Regions from separate parts of the Homo sapiens genome. Here region 2 is linked to region 1. Evidence: fine-mapped expression QTL. A gene starts in region 1. The other region holds a variant in brackets. All regions are shown on one strand. Distances are between the middles of the regions.

Evidence for each region. PIP is the estimated chance that this variant, and not a neighbour inherited with it, causes the effect.
Region 2: its variant is the best candidate, but not a certain one, in a credible set for the expression of TG in Th2 cells (Schmiedel 2018, PIP 0.87).

What each region holds. Positions count from the first base shown.
Region 1 is chr8:132,865,802-132,868,301 of GRCh38, forward strand. It overlaps TG (thyroglobulin), which reads left to right and starts at 1,157. Exons shown (of 48, transcript NM_003235.5): 1 at 1,157-1,266; 2 at 2,314-2,422. The coding sequence starts at 1,200.
Region 2 is chr8:132,746,493-132,749,519 of GRCh38, forward strand. It overlaps TMEM71 (transmembrane protein 71), which reads right to left. Exons shown (of 10, transcript NM_001382403.1): 5 at 450-622. Among named protein-coding and RNA genes, the nearest start is that of TMEM71, 13 kb to the right of the region's middle. The variant C/G (reference allele first, on the strand shown) is at 1,312.

The DNA.
Region 1 (2,500 bases):
CCGGGACCATATCCTCCAGATTCTCACAGGTCCCTCCATCTCTCCTCAGGTGCCAGGCTCAGCAACCTGCCCTCATTACCTGCCAGTTCCTGACCCTATCTGTCACTAGCTCCTTACCTGGCTGGATTGGTCTTCTGAATACTTGCCATTCCCTGGCATGATGCTTTTGCAAAATAAGAAAATCAATAATAATAATAATAACTGCTAGTGTCTAATAAGCATGTGCTCTTCAATGTCTATTCTCTTACAACTACCTTAACAAATAGGGACATATTATTATTCTCCTTTTAACTTTGCTTTCCAGAGAAGGAGGCTGGGGCTCAGGGAGATGAGGTGAGTTTTTCCAGGTCTCACAGGAACAGGACTGAAGGAAGGAAGCCATGTTTGCCAGGAGAAACCAAATGGACATACAGGCTTTCTGTGGAATACACAGTTCCTGCTATCTTTTGGTTGACAAAGTCTGAGGTCCTAGGAAAGAGAGGAAAGTAATAGAAATATGAATATGAGTGTGTGTGTATTTTGCTTCCCTCACCAAAGTTTTCACAGTCTATATTAATGAGGGCACGATTTTGCCTGTTTTGTTCTCTGCCATATCCTCATTGTCTAGATTAGGTGCCTGCTACTGTGGAGCTCTAAGAGGTTGTTAGAGAAAGAATAGAAGAAAGAAAAGAAGGAAGGAAGGAAAGAAGGAAGAAAGAAAAGAAAGAGGGAAGGAAGGAAAGAAAGAAGGAAGAATGAAAGGAAAGAAGGATAGAAGGGAGAAAGGAAGGAAAGAAGAAAGAAAGGAAGAAAGGAAAGAAGGAAGGAGGAAGGAGAAGGAGAAAGGGTAGGGTGGGGAAGGAAAGAACAAAGGATTGCTTTTCCCTCACTGTGGGCTTGAGCCTGTTCCCTCCAAAGATACAGAGCTTTGGTCTTTACCCATAAAAAAGGATTTTGAAGTCACCCCACCCCGTTCTGTTCCCCCACAGTTTAGACAAGATCCTCATGCTCCACTGGCCACACGAGTGCCCTCAGGAGGAGTAGACACAGGTGGAGGGAGCTCCTTTTGACCAGCAGAGAAAACAGGATGGGGCACTGCCTCACTGAGGACCTGGGGGTGGGAAGGAAAGTGCCAACGGCAGCTCTATAAAAGCTCCCTGGCCAGGGGACCTAGGGCAAGCAGTGGTTTCTCCTCCTTCCTCCCAGGAAGGGCCAGGAAAATGGCCCTGGTCCTGGAGATCTTCACCCTGCTGGCCTCCATCTGCTGGGTGTCGGCCAATATCTTCGGTAAGTTCTGAGGCCATGGAGCCAGGCGGTGGGGAGGGAGCTCCAGTGTCAGCCAGGCTCTGCCCTGGGCCTTCGAACAGGTGCGATCTAATTTAATCTTCACAAATTCCCACATGTCAGTGATTTGCTTTTTTTTTTTCAGATGAAGAGGCAGATTTAGAGAGCCGAACTGAATTACTTGAGGTCACAGAGCTAGTGATTGATGGAGCAGAAATGGGAAATGTGGTTGATCTTCCTAATTCAATTCTAGGTCCTCCTCACCCCACCATTTTGGCAAACTTTTGGCATTGACCTTGGGTTTTTATCCCCTTAGCTATTCCAAAGTCTGTGTCATCCATAACAGGTATTTTAGAAGCAGTAGAAAAAGAAATCTACCTATGAAGTGAAATAGCCCTAAGTTCTGTCTTTGGCTCAGCCACTTACCCATATGACTTCGGGCAAAGTGCCAAGCTTCTGTTTTTTTTTTTTTTTTTTCATTTAAAAAGTAAACAAATAACACACACCTCATGATGCGGTTGTGATTTCTGGGTAGGACCCTATGTGTTACAAGAGTTCTCAATGGAAAAATAAGTCATGTACATTATTAATTAATTGGTATTTCAATGTTTATCTGGAACATGTTACATCTGCAGGGCATGGCTTGATAGATTCAAGAAGAACTTCCTTACGGTTCTCTAACTTACTCCAAATAGCCTCATGGGAATTGCGGCAGGGTGGGGGCGGGCGGGGAACGTGTAGTCCCAGCGTTGATTTTGGGATCCTTCACTTGCCAGTTACGTGACTTTGGGCAGACGACTTTCGCTGCCTGAGACTTGGTGCCTCATGAGTGACAAGGATATATTGCCTGTCACCTCTTAGGAGAATGTTGCACATTAAATGAGCTAATGTCATACTTGTAAGAAAGTGTGCTTAGCTGCCAAATTTTAAAATAGGCTGTCATAGGTAATGATGATGACCCTGGAAAAGCATCTGTGCTTATGAGAGCCCGTCTCTGTCCTGGCAGCCCAGTCCACACTCTTCTTTGATGAACCACTTTTCTTTTCCTAGAGTACCAGGTGGATGCCCAGCCCCTTCGTCCCTGTGAGCTGCAGAGGGAAACGGCCTTTCTGAAGCAAGCAGACTACGTGCCCCAGTGTGCAGAGGATGGCAGCTTCCAGTAAGGCTTATGTCAGCAGCGAACTCTCAAGGTCCAAGATGCCATAAAAAGCATCTTGTGCCTTCCCCCCTCTTCCTG
Region 2 (3,027 bases), 120 kb before region 1:
ATATACATATATATGTATATATATATGGTTTTATGAAGAAATTGAAACTCAGCAAAGTTAAGTACTATCCAAGTGTACTCATACTGGGACTTGAACCCTGACTCCAGTACATTTTTTCCAATGCAGGTCTTCTAAATCTGACTCTAGTATCCTTTCTCCACCAATATCCCTTACAGAAAAAATACAGTGGAGATGTGCAAATATTTTCCCAGCATTATCAACTTAATAATTTACACATTTACATTAGGCTATTTTGCATGACATAGACACATATGTGTTTTGATCACACATGTAATATAGAGAGAACTTTAAGTGAATTTTAAAAATGTGGCCCATCTCTCCATCAAAATGACTGTCATCCCTGGAACTGACATTGGTTGAGGACCACAGGGTTACCACTGCCCACTTGGAGATAAAATTTTACTATGGAAAGGAGGACTCAAACTCACCATTTCCATTGCAATGGTCTGTGTCCAACCTCCTGGTCCCCTTCAACCAGTTGTCTTCACTTGGAGAAGAGTTGATGTCACCAAAGATACTTCCATGCAGCCAAGATTTGGAGGTACTGAGGTTGAAGAGAGAAGAAAAGGAATGGCAGATTCTCTTTTTCTTTCTAAATATCCTAGAGAGAAATGAAAGCATGGTGAACAACGAATAATAGTTACCTTTAGTTCAAAACTGTGATTTGAAGCGCAGAGTACATTTCTACAACCCAAGTCTGCTCACTGCATTAATTCTACAAAAGTTTCTCAAAATTCTACTGTGTGCCAGGTCCTTGGCTCAATGTCAAGAGTACTGAGGTAAAAGACAAAACTTTGTGTGTGAAAAGTTCACAATGTATTATAGGAGAAAGAAAGAAATAATAATGCACATATAGGTAATGCTTTCCTAGAGTTTATTCTATGCCTTGCATCTTTCTTAGTGCTTTACATAGATTAACTCACATTATCTTCAGAACAACTGTATGAAATAGATACTATTATTATCCCATTTTTCTGATCAGGAAACTTAGGCACAGATAGGTTAAGTCACTTGGCTGAGGTCATGCAGCTAGTAAGTAACATAGTTGGGATGCAATCCCAGAGAGTCTGCCTCCACGGTCTTTGCTTTTGATCGCTATGCTATATAGGGGATAAGTGCTCTGAAAGGATTACCTAGAGGCTGCTGTGAGGGCACCAGGAGTGGCAGTGCTAATTGATAATCAAGGGAGTTTTTCTGGGAGAAGTGAGTTCTAAGCTGCATCAGATGATCTGACCTGTTTATTGAGGAACCAGTAAGTCTGATTAGGTCATGCCAAGAAATGAAGCTGGA[C/G]AGGTAAAAGGAAGGTAAGTAATGATGAACTTCTTATATGCTACAAGGGAGTTGGAATTTAGTGTTGGAACAATGGGAGACCTCTAAAGCATGGCTACAGGGAACAGATTAGTGATGACATAATTCGGTTTGCATTTCCAAAATTGTTGGTAGCAGAGGGTGGCTCAGAGGTACAAGATTGAGGTCAGAGGGGTTAATCGAAGTGCACAGGGGATTCACTGTTGCGTATCTGCCTGTGATGTGTCAAGCCCTGTGCTGAGCACACTGTACTGGCAAAAAATACTGAGGGCCTGAACCAAAGGTAATGCAAGGTTGAGTGGGACAGCTTTCCCATCACAGGCAAGGTGGGCATGGAACAGTTTTCCCATCACAAAATTCTGCTCTTTAGCTATAGCTGCTATCAGAAGATGCATTTTGAATTGTGCTTTCCCTTGGTGGTTAAGATGAATTACAACAAGCCTTGTGTGTTCTTTATCCTGATGGTTCTCAACCAGGTTGATTTTGGCTGCAGGGAACATCTGGCAGGTTTTGGAGACATTTTGTTAATGTTACACCAGGGAAGGAGTGCTCCTGGCAGATGGTGAGAAGAGGCTAGAGATGCCATTAAACATCCTACAATGCACAGGGCAGTTGCCCACAACAAATAATTATCTGGTACAAAATGTGAATAGTGCTACTGTTGAGAAAATCTGCTTTATTTGAACTCTCTCTGTCATAGGTTTCAGGAACAACAAGTTGAGAAAAATGGTAGAGTTCATGACAATGGAACACATTCTTGTGAAAATGAACCAAATTTTAAAGATTCTTGTAGGCTCTAAGATGAGATCAATTAAAATTGAATAAAAAGGAATTAGTAATTTTTATTCATTTATTATCATATTCATTAATTCACTAAACAACTCCTTATTAAGTATGTATTATGGGATGGGCACTCATCAAATTTGAGAACAAAAAGTATGGATGAGACATCTTTAACATCAAGAATATCTATATAACAAGGGCTAGAGTTAAAAGTGGTGTTTCAAAACTGATTCGCTAAAGTCAGACCATCTGAGCTGGAATCCTATTTCCACCTAATAGCCCTGTGAGCTTGGGAAAATTACTCAACCTCTCTGAACTCATGTTTCACCTTTGTGAAATGGGAATGGCAGTAATAAAATCTACGTCATAAGATTCCAGAGCAGGAGTTTGGAATCAAATGGTAGTATATATCCAAAACAGTTGAGATAGTCCCTAGCACACAGAAAGCAATCAATAAATTTATTTTATTTTTTTATAGCAAATATTGGCAGTTATGTAAGGTGAAATGAGAAGAAAGAAAATGGAGTAAGACTTTCCTGAAGGAGGGTGCCTAACCAATGTAAGAAAACCACCTTGCAATAGCCTGGCCTGGGGAATGTACTGGAAGGTAGGTAATCCAGGAGGCATCAGAATCAACCATGGCTGAAATCTAAACAGGAGGTGATGGTGGCCTGAATGAAGAAAATAGCTATGGGAAGAAAGACAAGAGGAACAATTCAAAATAATTTTAGGAAGTAGATTCATTTGGTCTTCACATTTGTGGTGGAAACAATAAACTTCTCACCAAATACACTGTACCTGGACACACAACTGAACTAGATCTTTCTGCTCCCTTGCCATTAGGTGTGGTCATGAGTCTAAGGTCTCCCCAGTGCAATGTGAGCAGAAGTGATCTGTACCATTTACGGGCTGGGG